2 separate regions of the Homo sapiens genome follow, and region 1 is reported to be linked to region 2. Evidence: microRNA targets listed by miRTarBase, many of them from high-throughput screens and not tested one by one. Region 2 holds a microRNA gene; the other region holds the end of a gene's coding sequence.

Region 1 (7,710 bases), not on the chromosome of region 2:
TAAAATCTGATGGAGTCTGTTATGATTTAGTGTATGATGAAACACTAGCTTCTAAGGCTTTTATGCAGGATAAATTATTTCCAGGGACAAGGAGACATGAAAGTACAGCTGGTTCTTGTTTGTGGTAATTCTGTTCTTTAAGGTGGCTATGAACACTGAATTAGCAAATAAGGAACAAGTTCCTAAGAGAAATACAGATTCTGTGACCCTTTGGTCACAATATTGTCTGCCAGTCAGTATATAACCTTGATCGACCTGTTTCTGCTTGAAAACATTCTTTAGTATTTCATTAACTTTCAATTAACAGCCAACAGCACTATAACTAACTCATGCTTGGGACATCACGGCCTTCTTTGCATTTGGGAACACTAGGTAGCATGCTTCACTACTACTCTTAGGAACCATCTTAAAACAGCAAAATCACCAACAAAAAGCACAAACATGAAACTTGGCACTAAATAGACCACAAAAAGGATATCTGTTTATGGTGTGAGAGCTTAAACAAGGTAGAGCATTGCCTTGTGCACATAAAGTGGTTTAAATTTTTTGTCACTCTGCAAATACTCACAAATGACCAGAAAAGGATGTTGATTTTGGAGTTACAAATTTTAGTGAGTAGGCAAATTCACAGATAAGGAATTCTACTAATAATGAGGATCAACTGTATTTTGGTTTACTAACCTTTTATTTCAGTCCATTGGACAAATCAAAAAATGTTTCTCTGAACAAGAGCTTTATGAAGAAATAGTTGAGACTTAAAAGAAAATTTTTCAAAGACAGATAGTGATAATATGCCGACAGGCAATGAAGCATTAACTCTAAAAAGGGAAATTTAACTTAATAGGTATAAATACTTTTGAGGGTTCAGTGCAAACAACATACCCGTTTTAAGACAGGTGTTAAGACAATGGAAACCACTTAAAAATACCAAGGAGCACAGCAGAGCACATTTTTTTCTTGCATAGTAATCAGTTTTATTTTCTCCAGGCTTACCTTTTTTAAGTAGAAGAATCCGTGTTTCATTGAAGGCTATTAGGCAAACTGAACATTTAAATGTTATCCATGTGAGGGCTCTAGATCATGTAGGTGATTGATACAAATACGATCCATAAAAAAACTTTTATCTTTTGCTGGTATTTTCTTACAAAATACTTGGATCTGTAACATTTGAGTACTTACAGTGTACTAGCACTGTGCTAAGTATTCTTCCCTTATCTCAGTAGACTAGTTATTATGATGTACATTTTACATGTGAGGAAATGGAAGTTTAGTAAGGTTAAGCAGCCAAGGCAACATGCTGAGAATGGCTGATCTTTCTCAGATCCTGAGTTCCGTTCTCTTAACTTTTTGTACTATGGCCTTCACAATTCTGATAACCTAAGCATGTTTTCCTTGATAGTACTGAGATGTGAGTCTAGTACTTATCTCTACAGATCTAGCTTGGGGCCTTTGTCTTTACTCATTGGTGCTTCCAGATATATTTTAAAGAAGGCGGCATGATTAAACACACTTTGGGAATGAGAGGTAGGTTACAAGTTAAACTTCTGCAGAAGCCAGGTAAACAGAAGCCAGGTAAATCTGAGCCTCGAGGCTTCAGCTTTCTCTGTAAAAGGGAAATATACATGACCAACTTGAAATTGTGAAGATTCTTCCACATTTTATGGCTTGGGAAACAAAAGTCCAGAGCAAATGGTCTTTTTTCTAAGGTCCCACGGCTAGTGAAACTAAAATTAGGTCCTTGGTGTCTTCTCCAATTTGCTGTTCATATTAGTCCTCATTAGAAGTTTGTGGGGAATTCCTATCTATAGCCTTCACATTAGACCTCAATATCAGAGATTTTTGTGAGTCACTTAGCCTCTTCCCTTGCCTTTACTGGCCATCTGGGTTGACATTAGAAATGAGTCCTAAGGTGCTGTATAAAAACTGCTTTGTTGGTAAGAAGTGAGCTATAATGGGTTGTCCTGGAAGTTAACTCTTTCTCCACCTTTAGTTTTAAGCAAGTTCTCCTGCCATCAAGTATTTTCCAAATGATGAGAGTACTTACGGAAACATTTAAATGGAAAACCAATGAGAACTGAGAAAAATTAGGGAACTAGCTTCTTAATATATTGCCACACTGAAAGCTGTATAAATTCAGTATACTGAATATGTATGCCCCCCCGTAAAGAAAACCTAGTATCAGAAATGTCTAAAAATAAAATTTCACGCAGGCATAATGCTTCATTTAAAGGGTTAGAGGGGTTTTAGGTTAGAATGCAGAGTTCTGTTTCAATCATGAGAAATTCTATAAGGCATCTTTCTGTTGACAGTGACCTAAAAAAAAGGTTTTGCAGTTCAGAAGCTTGTAGTAGGTTCACATTGAGTGCACAAGAACCTCCAAACATGTTAAATCTGATGAAAATTTAGAACATGAATCAACAATGTCAAAGAACAGACTAAGCTTAAAAAAACAAAACCCTGTAAATTTTATGTAAACAAAGTAAAAAAAAAATTACAATGTAGAATGCTCTCCTAGGTTTTTGGTTATGTAAAGTATCCTGGAATGAGTAACCTTGAGTACCAGTTAACTTGAATGACCTAAGCTCTGGTTTTAGTTTTTGGACTGCTGTACAGTGTGCTGTTTATCAGCTTAGAGCCAACTACTGCCTTAGCAACAAGATATATATAGGAAGAGCTTCTATCCTGTGTCACCTATTATTCCTGACCCAATAATAGAACAGTCCAATGATATGGGATAATCTGTTATGGTTAACATTTGCTAACACCTTACAGCAGTTTCAGTTAATGAAATTTCAAATATATGTTTACATTTTTCTTTACAACCTGAAGACAGCCAAGTTAGCTGAAAAAGGAAGCCTAGAGGTTGAAATGTAAGCAACCAAGCAACAATTAAGTATAAATTGTTTATCTAGAAAAACTATTGGAAAATATTTTTAATGAAAATGGTCTCTAAAACTAGAAAATTAATATGTACATTTTACAGTTAATCCAATTAAGAGGGTACAAAGGGGTAAAAAAACTTTCCCAAAAAAAAAGAACATCCCAATCACTGAAATACAAAGAAATTCAAGAAGCTAATTAGTAGCATACTTAATAGTGGGGCTGTAAGACTTGTGAAAAATTACTTTGTCCTTGTTTGGAATATCTTATAGATTGCATTCAGCATAGTTGAAAATGTCTGGGATGGATACATATGTAAAACAAACACCACTTAAATTCAGCATACTCCTTATGAGAATACTTGGGCATTTGGTTAGGTGTTGCTCAGGGTCTGACATGTGACTAGACTCAAATTACTACTGGAAGGGCCTTAAAGATACCAACTAGGCCAGCCCTCTCTGGTTGGATAAAATTGAAACCATAGAGAAAAAGTTAATAGAGCTAAAATAGCAGCTTCTAATTCTGTACCATTACCTAAAGCATCTTTTTGAATTATCAAAGGAAGAAATAAGCAAATGGACTGTGGGAAATCATCTTACAAAACTAGAATATAGTTTTTCCAGGGGAATTTTTGTGTACCTTACCTCAGTACTGGAAATAATATTACAGAAGATACAGATGAATCTGAAATGATACACTGATAAACTTTTTAAAAATTTGTAATTAGACTGAACCATAAGAAACTGTTAATAGTTGATCATTTTTGAGCCTTACAAAAGTGGTAATTTCCTACTGTTCAGTGTAATGGACTTAAATCAGTTTTAACACCACTTGCTAACAGTCTGACTTTAGCAGATTGCAGTTACTGCTTTATTGCAAAAGCTCCTGAAATAAAACCCAAATACTATCAGAGATTAACATGGGTTATGAGCAACTACAGTCCATTCAAGTACACGTTCTAATAAAGAACTAAAATTAAAAAAAAAAATAAGGGGCTAGCAAATTCACTATAGCAGACAGATATTCTTAACGAAAAAGCGTAAGGGATCCAAATCGTGTAGCAAAGACAGGAAGACTGAGACAGTAACAAACATCCTTTTCTTTGAGATTTTTTGCCAAAACAGTAGATTCACAGTTCAAATCCAAGTTCCTTGAAACTTTACAGAAGAAAATCCAGGTGTAATTTTCCTTTACTGTAATTCTTAACCACCAATCATCTGTCCCTGGACATAGCCTGTTTTCCATGTTTATCTGTCCTTAGGCAACAGCCCATGAGAACACTAGTTGGTTTGAGCCTCAAAAGCGTAAATCTGTTTGCAGAGGATACAAATGGTGCTGTTTCCCAGTCCAAGATTTAGTTAACATACCAACTTCTATAAGACCCTCCTTAGGTTACAAAACGCTAGACACAGCTAACAGCAGCTACAAAAATACGTGACTTAGCACAACAGCAATGGAACCCAGCATCATCTCAGGTAAGTTTCTGTGAACTCACCAGTTTGATGTGCTGCTTCTAATTCCACATTAAAATACAAGATTATTTCAAAATAAAGATTTGTGTATTCCTATTACACTTTTGCCAATTATTTCTGAAGTGTTACCAGAGACACCATTTTGCACAAGTTGTAGCCCCCTTTAAGGCTTAACAAAGGTGATGCCTAAAGCAAGAATCCTAGGCCTCCCAAAGCTTCAGGAAAAGCAGGTCATTTTTGCCACCATATAATCTCAGCTGTTACTTCATGATTCCGTTCAGGTGTCATATATGAATTCACATATATATGCTGAAACATTGTTGCAACTGCACAAGATCTTCCAGAATACCTTTTTTTCCTTCTCTTTAAAGAGGGTCTCAGTGGCCCAGAACTGAGTTCAAATGATGCTCCCACCTCAGGCTCCTGAGTAGCTAGAACCAAAGACATAAGCTACTGTGCCAGGCTCCAGAATACATCTTTTGCTTAAGTGTCTGTTTAGTGTATAGTGGCAAGTTCTTCCCATAGCAACATCTCACCTAACTAGGATAGCAGCCAAAAAGACGGAACCCTCTCAAATACATTTAAAAGGCTACCTGAATTAATGGCTACCCTTTGGGGAGTGGGGCTCTCTAAAAAAACAAATGCGTATTTATCACAATTCTGCACTACCTATATTTTTTAAAGGACAAGACATTGGGTTTAGTCATTTGTAAAGTAATGAACTTAGTGTGGTTATTGCTAGAATGAAGAATTGGTTCAGCTATACTCACTCTTTTAAGATTTTGTTTCTTCCATTCCCATTGAAACCATCTTTATGGAAAAGGGATGTTTAATATATCTGACTATTCTATGTGGGAGAAAATGAAAAGTCTTTTTTTTTTTTTTTACACCATATTTACCAATTTGGCATTAATTAAAATTCTTCTAATACCTTATAATTTTTAACCCAATTATGTAAGAGAACTGAGACAATTTAACCTGTTGCTAGCTTTGATCGATTTAAAAAAACACATTTGTGGGTAATTTTTTTAAATATCAGGACATGAAATTACTTGATATCTTTATATATAAAGGACAGGAGTTGCACTACTCACACCTTACTTTAAAATTCTGTTACCAAGAACCAATCAGAAGGCCTCAGGAAAAAGCACGTAATACCAGCACATTTTAACCTTAATCAGAATAATTTGAGGGCTAGGGTTATATATACTGAACTGGCACATTGTACATTTTTAACTATACCCTGAATTATCCTTCAGAGCATATAAATTAAAATCACATTTTTATGCACATAAAAAATTAACACAAACTATGCACACAACACTTTTCATATGCCAAGTGATAACAAAGGGCTGTCATTCTTGTTCAGTGGTCCATATAATATTGTGGAACAAAGCCTTCCCCTATGTCTAACAATTACTTGACCTCACAATTAGCTGTACTAACTGTTGTCCATTGTTAAACTTCATGTCTTTATCTTCATAAAAATTAAGCTCTGGCTAAAATATATACATAAAGTTTAATAACTGATTTTTGGTCACTGATATGAGAGCCTTCAAAATAAGTTGAGAATGAATAAAGCAAATCATTGGCCTATTATTTAAAAATTGCTTGTCATCCCTTCTATCCCCCATTGTCTTCCAAAGTTGCCTTTGATTAGAATTTTGTTAGGTTTTTTTGCTAATTATCACATGTATTATTAATTACCTATGCATCTAACAGCCTAAACTTGTGTAAAGATTTCAGATGATTCATTACAAAATGATTAAATGGCCAACTGACATTTTAATGCTATTTATGAGCAAGTATAAATGCTTTTTAAAAAGCAAAGTATACTATCCTAAGCCTATTAATAGCTCCAACTATTTTGCAACAATTGGTGTAAAAAGTAGAAAGTTAAAAAAATTCAGCAAATGGAAGATCAAAGTTTATTTACTACCTGCATACAAAAACATATTGCACATCAAACAACCGAAATAAAAAAAAAAAAAAGGAAAAAAAAAAGATACTCTACTGAAGACTAACATGTAGTTTATACAGAATAAACCTTCTGGAAATTGATCTTTTCAGTAGTTCAGGTTATGTCTGAATGGACATGACTAATTCAGCTTAGTGTTTTAACTAAAGCTATGTTTGATTTTTAAATACTGTACACTTTAATAAATAAACCAAACAAAGCCTCAAGGTAGAACAGTCACTGCCAAGTATCGCCCAGTGTCCCTGCAGATGAGAGTTTAACAAATGTATTCCAGTGGTCTGCAGATTTTCCTCTACATACAGCATTTAAAAAACACATTAAAACAGACCAGTTTCCAGACTAAACTAATGAAGAAATTACAATTCAGTGCAAAATATTTTAGACTGCATTTCATTCTAGTTTTCCTCAGGTGAAGAAGTGGTTGCATATTAAAAATGTAACAAAAGCAGCTAATGCTTTCATAAAGAATATTACGTTAGGGATCCCACCCCACCCACCACCCCCCATCTCTGCCATATTTTGAAAACAAAATAACATTTCCTATAGCCAGCAACTTTTTTTTAATGTTACATATACTATTCTCAAGGCACATCTGATGATATATTTTATAACACAGTAGGTGTCAAAGTATGTTTAACATATGATTTCTTCAGGATCCCTCCCCTTTTTGAATTCCAAATGGAGGAACTGAAAGTGCGATGTAAAGACTGGCGATCCATATTCTATCTTTGGCAAGCTTGTACAAGCACTATTGTAAATGTAATGTAAAAGAACTGTAAACTAGGAACTTCTTCAGTTTATGAAACACCATTCAGGACTGCTGCTTCTTGAGTGTTTTCTTCTTTTAAGGTATTAATCTTTTCTTCTCCTGGAGTACGCTGTAGCTTAGAAATGTCATCGCCAGAAGCACTAGTTGGGCCGTTTATTGCCTTTTCTGAAGGACCATGCTCTTCAATCACATCTTTTGCCTGCCAAAGGGAGACAACTTTTTCAACTTCTTTATAAATGAAATCTATAGCTGAGGAGGAAAACAGCTACATAAACACTAATTAGCTAATTAAAAATTTCAGTTTTATATACCACAATGGATCAAAGTATTAAAACATCTTTAAAATTCAAAACAAATAACAAAGTATTCCACTCTATGGGTCTTTCAACTTTGTATCTCTAGTACCTAGCAGTGCCCAAACCACAGAAAACATCTAAACTAATGAAAACTGTACCTAATTTTAAAACACTGGAAAGCTCACCATGAAAATGACATAAACAGTTAATATTAAACAAATAATCACCTACTTTACTCACCTTATTTTGAGAAATCACATTTACATATCAAATACTGTAAAGCATTTAAAAGAACTAAAATTTAAAAGGTCTATA
Region 2 (8,515 bases):
GATGAAGACTTAACTTTTACATGTATTACAATTAGGCCCTCTATATCAAAAGGTCTTTTCAGGACATGAAGGTGCACAAGTGCACAATCTCCGTAAGCCAGCCAGAACCAGTTCATAGTCAGTGGTCTTATCTGGAGAAAGCTAATGAAATCAGTCTCTTGTCCAGTCAGAGCTGTAGTTATAGCTTGTGGAACACGGGCTGAGGATCAGCCTAGTCAGCAGCTGGTGGAACTGAAAATTGTTTTAATATCACTTGTTTTGAGACCAGTGCTTGTTTAGCTGCTAGAGAAAAAGAAAATCCTTGTGACAGTTAGAACATAGTTTATTCTTTAAGTGCAGGAATGTGTGATTTAACCTTTGCCTGGCATGTCCTTAGATAATGTTTATAATCTAATATCTTATTGTCACATAGAGTCTGTTCTGTCAGCCTTTTAATCTCTATTTTAACATTAATGCTGGTCAGTTGTTCTGTCCAAACCACAAAATGGAGGGGGTGTAACAAGGTGTGTCTGACCTTCCATTCTGTCATGGCTGGGAACTCAGTTTTAAGGATTTTCTGCGTTCCCCTTTGCCAAGAGAGGGTCTGTTCTTTCAGTGGGGGGCATAGGATTTTATTTTTAAATTTTAAAATTTTTAACTTTGTTTTCTTTGGGGTACATAGTAGATATATAAATATTATAAAATATTATAAATAAATATTATGGGGTACATGAAATGTTTTGATACAGGAATGGAATGTATAATAGTCACATCATGAAGAAGGGGGTAGGAGTTTTTTTTAGTTTACATTACTTTAATATTGGACCCCTGAAACACACTGTCCTTTGTTTAAAAAAGTAAATTTGAAAAACTTTTAGGGAAATCTTAAAAAATGGCAATAATTTAATTTTAAACCACAATTTATCAGTCATATATACATGACTGATATATAGAGAACACAGCTTTATATATACAGTGTTTAGCTATTGATATGGTTTGGCTGTGTCCCCACCCAAATCTCAACTTGAATTGTATCTCCCAGAATTCCCACGTGTTATGGGAGGGACCCAGGGGGAGGTAATTGAATCATGGGGCCCAGTCTTTCTTGTGATAGTGAATAAGTCTCATGAGATCTCATGAGTTTATTAGGGGTTTCCGCTTTTGCTTCTTCCTCATTTTCTCTTGCTGCTGCCATGTAAGAAGGGCCTTTTGCCTCCTGTCATGATTCTGAGGCCTCCCCAGCCATGTGGAACTATAAGTCCAATTCAACCTCTTTTACTTCCCAGTCTCGGGTATGTCTTTAGCAGTAGCATGAAAACGGCCTAACACAGCTGTGAAGTTGTATATCAATATCACTTTCTGGTTCCCCTTAGAACCCTCAGGAGTTTCTCTTTTCTGTTAATTAAAATTTCACAGTCACTTTTAATCTATTATCATTATTCTGCAGAGTGAACTGTTTGAATAGAGAATCAATTAAAAGCATAGCACAGTAAAACGTGGGGATGTTTTGCAACTTGGGCATATGAAAAGTAGTGAATAAGAATCATTTTCAACCTATGATATGAAAGAAGGGAGATCCTGGGGGCATCCATAGTCAAACACTTGGTTGTACACTTGGAGATGTTTTTTCAAGCCTTGGATTATTACTAACAGTAAACAAGAAATTCACTAACTAGAGAAAGCAGATATGAGTACGTACAGACTATCAGATCACAAACAGCAGTTAGTAAGGTGATCTAACTAAAAGCTGTAGATGGTGTCTCTTTGAACTAATGCTACTTTGAGCGGTCTAAAAGCATGATTGCTACATGATGCTTTAAGAAATCTGCCTAGTACCTGACAGCATATTGTTCATACTAGTATCTGTAGCTGTAAATTTAGATTTTAATAATTGTTTGGTACATATTAATATATAATTTTAAGATAAAAAGGAAATTGATTTTATAGGTTATATCCTATATCTTTGGCTTAAAATATATTGTAGAAAATAATGTATCCCATCAAATTCCATGGTAAATTAGTGAGTCACAGCGAAAGTTAGAAACACTGGCCTACAACTTTTAATGATTAATTACTTGGCCATGAATAAGCCATACATTATTTAGATGTATATTTAATTTTAAAGAAATCTGCATTTTAATATTTCTGAATATGTCATTAGTTATTAAGAAGATTACTATAAAAAGCAGTATTCAAAAATATATTTTACAGTTTACTTTAGTTTTTAGTGAACATTAGAATGATAGCATGGCCATGTTGTTTATCACTGAAGCACCTAGGAGAGTTAGCAAATGTTAATCCTGCTAGTGTCATCAAGACTAAACAAATTATAAAGACTAAATATCCTTTTTTTTTTTTTTTTTTGAGATGGAGTCTCACTCTGTCTCTGAGGCTGGAGTGCAGTGGCACGATTTTGGCTTACTCCTACCTCAGCCTCCCAAGTAGCTGGGCTTACAGGCACGCAACATCACCCCTAGATAATTTTTGTATTTTTAGTAGAGATGGGGTTTCGCCATGTTGGCCAGGCTGGTCTCGAACTCCTGACCTCAGGTGATCCACCCACTTTGGCCTCCTAAAGTGCTGGGATTATAGGCGTGAGCCAACATGCCTGGCAAGATTAAATATACTTTTAAAAAATTATATTTTTTTCTATTGACTTAGAAATCACTCTACATTAATGACATAGTCAAAGAGATTTTACTTTTGTTCTCTTGTAAATAAAATACCAGATTAAAGGTATGCTTAATGTGATAAAGTAAAGCCAAAATCCAAACCAGAAAATCTAGAGTCATAAAGTTAAAGCCACAATTATATCTTATTCTCTTACCTACTCATTTCTTTTTCCCCACTACTGAGAGGATAGAGTCACATAGTACAAATCAGCAGAAGTCCTCATTATTATATTCTTGCTTAGGCAAGAATTCATGATTGCTTCTTTGTCCTTATCCCTTTTCCACCACTCAAGATCCATACAATAGAAGAAATAGAGAATCATTTAATAAAGTTGTCTTCCATTCAACTCTGAAGAAAATATCAACAGAGAAATGGAAGTCTTTTCCATGCACTCATAGGTAAAGTTTTGAGATCAGCTTGAAAGGAGGTAGCTCAATTGGAAATTACATAAAAAATTCCAGGAAAGATGGGTTGTGAGACTATCTCAGAAGAGAAAATCTAGGGTTTGTTTGTTTGTTTGTTTGAAGATATTGTAGATTGTATTGAACCTCTCAGGTGTCAGGTCCTGATGAAATTGTAGGCTCACAAAATTTTGCAGATAGGAAAGTTCTTGGTGCTGAGAGACTTGAGATGAGCAAGTACATAATGCAGAATTTGCTAAGCTAAATGAACAGGGCTGATTGAATTTGTCCTTAGCTAAGTTTCTTTATTTTGTAATGTGGTGGTCACATTGCAGAGCCGCAGAGCCTAGGATCTCATGATGCTTCTAGGCCTGTGTTTTTGGCAACTAAATTGTGATACATCTGGGATAGCTTTGGTAAAAAGTGTGTGCAGCCCATCTGGGGTCTTCCAGCCATAGAATTCCTCTACTGTCATGTAAGAAGTCTGTTTATATGATTTAGAAGCAGGTAATACAGGTTGACTAAATTGGAAGTGGAGCTGGGCAGTGTTTGTAACCCAGAAAATATCTTGGTACCTATAAGTGTCAGGAGATTTTTCTCCTTTTATTTAATTGGTGGGAAATGATATTTTTGAGATAAGGGGTTTAAGTTCAAGTAAGAGATGAGTTATTGGTTGACAAGCTTTTGGATCATTTAGGCTACTTGTAATCACAACCAGTTCATCAGGAAAAGACCACCAGGCCAGAAGAGGCTTTCATGACAGCATTTACACAGAGAAGCATCAATCAATGTCAAGCCTTTCAGCAGAAACTGGAACTTCATGGTGCAGCAGTTCATCTTCGCATGGGCCGGGAGGTTGAACATCCTGCATAGTGCTGCCAGGAAATCCCTATTTCATATAAGAGGGGGCTGGCTGGTTGCATATGTAGGATGTCCCATCTCCCAGCCCACTTCGTCATGACAGACACCAGAAACACCACTCTGCTTCACTGAAGAACAATAAAATCTGCGTGTCATGGAAACACAGATGCTAGAGCTGCATCACTAGAAAGGCATTCTGACAAATGTATTTAGAGGAGGGTAGAGTACTGACTGCTATGACCTTGGCTCATAAGAGGCAGTGGGTATGTGAGTGGATCTTTAAGCTCAGGGCCAGTAGATCTGCATTAAACCATATTAGCAACAACACTGGCCACACAGATAATGCCTCCAGAATTGTGCCACCTACTCTCAGAGCTACACCGAATTAGGGAGATTCAATAGTTGGGCATATTTATTTAGGCTAGCCAGAGCCAAATACCTAGAGGTAGAGAGAATCTAATTCTTAATTATAGAAAAAAACAAAGATTATATCCTGAAAAGCAGCCTAGAATTTCAAGTCTGAGGGTCAAGGTAAGATAGTAAATTAAAAAATATGTCTCAAAGTCAGAAGAAGGATATTTGGGAGGAGTATTCCAGAGAAGAACTAACAATTCTAAATTGAGCAGAAACAGTCTATTACACTTTGAGGCAAGAATCAAGTTACAAGGAAGTAGGTGTGATTGCAAAGGGAGAAAGTTAGCGGCATGTCCCTACAAATATTTCAGAGATATAATTTCTGTCAGCTGCAGTATCCAATCATATCCAGGGAATTCTGTCAAAAGCAAGGTGATAGGAAATATCGAGAGCAGGGCCCAGCTCTTAAAAACATAGGGCAGGATTAAAAGTAATGCAAAATCCAGCCAATCCTAGCGGCCCTTCTACTTCTGGATTGGTACAGGAAGGATATAATCTCAGAATAGAAATAAGCCATTTAAATGGAATATATTTAGCTTTATAAATAATTGGCTGTTATACATAATTTTCCATTTTCACTTTAGACTGCTGAAATTTCACTATGGATCTTTATATGAAAATGACTAATCTGTAGGAGATGCTACTGGCAGAGAATCAATTATGTCAACAGCACAAACTTGAGTTGTATCCTGGGATGCTATCGAGTTTTCCACTGACTTTAAATTAGGGTCAAGTTAAACAGGCCATCTCCAAAGACTTTGGGGTTCTAAAAAATGTTGATTTGCTATGCATTCGAATCTGGGATGAGTTTCTAGTCAACCATCCTGGCTTTGGCATTCTTCACAGTGGATGGTAAGTGGGCCAATCTTAGGCTGAAAAACAGGCTGATTTAGGGTTTGGGATTTAGAGCATTTATATCTCTTTATTTTCCTCAGCAGCACAGACTCTCCATTGGAATTAGGGGCTTAGTGAATAGTTCAAAAAACGTATGGTTTCATATACAAGGACCCCAAAGTTCCATGCAAATGTATGAGCATACTGTTATGTATAATACCCATGTAATTTCTGTAGAGTCTATAGAGATATCACCTCTTTGATCACTGATAATTGATAATGTGTGGCTTCTACCTTTAATTCTTAGTCGATCTGTTGAGAGGTTTATCAGTTTTATTGATCTATTCCCAATAAAGTGCAGCATTTTATTTCATTGAATTCTCAATATTATAGTATTGCCTAAATTTTATTGATTTCTGCTTTTATATTTATTTATTTCTTCTGGTACTTGGATTTCATTTTTCCTTTTTTGCCTAGCACTTTAATTTTGGAAGCTTAGATCATGGATTTGAGTTTTCTTTTCTAAAATAAACCATTAACGTTAGAAAATTCCCTTTGAGTACTACTTTAGCACCATCAGACAAATTTTAGTACGTTTTGTTTTCATTTTAATTTACTTCAAATTATTTTTTAACTTCATTTGCCTTTTCCTTTTGAAACATGAATTATTTAGAATTGTGTTATTTAATTTGCAAATATTTGAACATTTTCAAGATATCTGTTTTATTTGTTTTCAGGTTAATTCTGTTATACTCAGACAACACACGTTGTTTGATTGCAACCATTTTAATTTCTTCAGGTATATTTTATGAGCCAGAATATGGTCTTTCCTGGTCAATTTTCCATAGTTCTTGAAAAGAATGTGTACTTTCCTGTTGTCAGGTGGTATGTTTTATCAATGTCAATTAGGTCAAGTTTGTTGGTAATGCTGTTCAGTTCTTTTACCTCAGTGATAATTTTCTGTATGCTTTTCTGTCAATTAACTGAGGAAGGGGTGTTGAAATCTTGAAGTGTAATTGTAATTCTACTTTTGATTTCTTCTTTCTGCTCTACCATTGTTGTGCTTCATGAATTTTGAAGCCCTGTTATTATATTTTAAATGTTATTATATTTTAAATGTATTATAAACGTTTAGGACTGTTATATTCCCTCGATGAATTGACACCTTTATCATTATAAAATGGTCTGTGTTACCTCTGGTGATATCCGATGATCTGCAATTTACTTTATCTGTTATTAATATAAAAATTCTAGCATTTGTTTAATTAGTGTTTGCACAGTATATCTTTTATCCATACTTTTATTATACAGGTTGAGCATCTCTAGTCCCAAAATCTGAAATCTGAAATAATCCAAAATCAAAAACTTTTTTTTTTTTTTTGAGACAGGGTTTTTCTTTGTTGCCCAGTCTGGAGGGCCATGGCACAATCATGCAGCCTCAAACTCCTAGGCTCAGGTGATCCTCCTGCCTCAGCCTCCTGAGTAGCTGGGACCACAGGTGTATGCCACGATGCCGGGCTAAGTTTTTAAAGTATTTGTAGAGACAGGATCTCCCTATGTTTCCCAGGCTGGTCTCCTGGGTTCAAGTGATCCTCCCACCTCAGCCTCCCAAAGTGCTGAGATTACAGGCATGAGCCACCATGACCAGCCAAAATACAAAGCTTTTTGAACATCTATATGGTGCCACAAGTAGAAAATTTCTCAGCTGACCTCATGTGACTGGTCACAGTCAAAATGCCATCAAAACTTTGTTTCATGCACAAAATTATTTGCAATATTGCATAAAATTAACTTCAGGCCAAAAAATAAATGAATTTCACGTGTAGACTTGAGTTCCATCCCCAACATGTCTTATTATGTATATGCAAATATTCCAAAATATCAAAATGTCCAAAATCTGAGACTCTTCTAATCCCAGGCATTTCAGATAAAGGATGCTCAGCTTGTACAACTATCTATATTATTAAATTTAAATTTGTAGAGTTTCTTATAGACAGCATATAATTGTGTCTTGTTTATTTTTATTCTCAATTTTAATCCAAAATCGCTATCTCTTTCCTTGAATTGGTGTGTTTATACCATTTAGATTTAATGCAATTATTGATTTGTTTGGACTTATGTCTACCGTGTTTTGTTTTCTATTTATCCCTTGTCTTTTCCACTCTTTTATTTCCTATAGGAATGGGAAACATTCTTTTGTTTCCTAATTCTGATTTATTATGTTTTTTTCTTTTTATTTGAGTATTTCAATTTTATTGATCTATTGGCTTTTTTACTATATTTCTTTGTACAGTTTTTTTGTTTGTTAAGTGACAATGCTCTGAATTAAAATATACCTGTATATTATAAGTATCCCTTATCCAAAATTCTTGGGACCACAATGCTTTGGATTTTGAATTTTATTAGATTTTGGAATATTTTCATTATAGTTAACAGTTCAGCATCCCTAATCCAAAATTCCAAAATCCAAACTGCTCCAATGAGTATTTCCCTTAAGCATTATCTCAGTGCTCAAAAAGTTTAGATTTTGGAGAATTTGGGATTTCAGGTTTTCAGATTAGAAATATTCAACCTATATATACATATTTTTTCCAAGTTTCTTACCCTTAATATTTTATCACATCAAGTGAAAGATAAAACCATATATGCTCCTTTATCCTCCTTTTTTTGGTCTTAGTTGTAATATGGATTACATCTACATGCATTGAGAACCTTATCAGACAATGTTACAAAATTTTTGCTTCTGAGAATCATATGTATTTTAAAGACTTAAGAAAAATTATTATATTTTCTAAGATATTTACCGTTTCTGTTGTTCTTCCTTTGTTCCTGATGTTTTCCTTTAGTGTAATTTTCCTTTAGTGTAATTTCCTTTAGTGTTTTCCTTTAGTGTAATTTCCTTCTGCCTGAAAAACATCCTTTAACATTTTTAGACCAAGTCTCCTAGTTTAGAGAGACTTGTTTTAGAGCAATGAGTTCCTAGTTTCCCTTCACCTGAGAATCTCTTTATTTCACATTCATTTGTGAAATATATTTCCACTGGATATGGAATTTTGAATTGATAGCTCCTTTCTTTCAGGCTTTTAAATTTGTGGTTACACTACCTTCTGGTTTTCATGGTTTCTGATGCAAAATCTGAAGATATGCAACTTTCAATGTTTTTGTCTTTATCTTTTATTTTGACCAGTTTGATTATGATGATCTAGGTATGATTTTTTTTTTGGTTTAAACATTTGAGTTTTACAGAACTTCTTAAATCTGTAAATTTTTTCCCCCCAAATGCGGCATGTTTTGGACCATTATTTCTTCAAATAGTATTTCTTCATCAATTTTTCTCCTCTCCTTATAAAATT

What was found. The annotated mature microRNA hsa-miR-448 reads UUGCAUAUGUAGGAUGUCCCAU and lies in region 2 at 3,971-3,992, shown strand. An mRNA with a match to its seed (bases 2 to 7 or 8) in the 3' UTR can be bound and repressed. Matches are read on the target gene's strand: a 7mer-m8 pairs with bases 2 to 8, a 7mer-A1 pairs with bases 2 to 7 and ends in A, and an 8mer does both.
Region 1: the mRNA of FXR1 is a reported target of hsa-miR-448. Seed matches in the 3' UTR shown: 8mer at 6,752-6,759 and 7mer-A1 at 958-964.

Annotation. Positions count from the first base shown.
Region 1 is chr3:180,975,710-180,983,419 of GRCh38, reverse strand. FXR1 (FMR1 autosomal homolog 1) reads right to left here. Exons shown (of 17, transcript NM_005087.4): 17 at 667-7,298. The coding sequence ends at 7,128. Among named protein-coding and RNA genes, the nearest start is that of DNAJC19, 10 kb to the left of the region's middle.
Region 2 is chrX:114,819,554-114,828,068 of GRCh38, forward strand. It overlaps MIR448 (microRNA 448), which reads left to right and starts at 3,901; the gene lies at 3,901-4,011. All of the region lies in intron 4 of HTR2C (5-hydroxytryptamine receptor 2C), which reads left to right.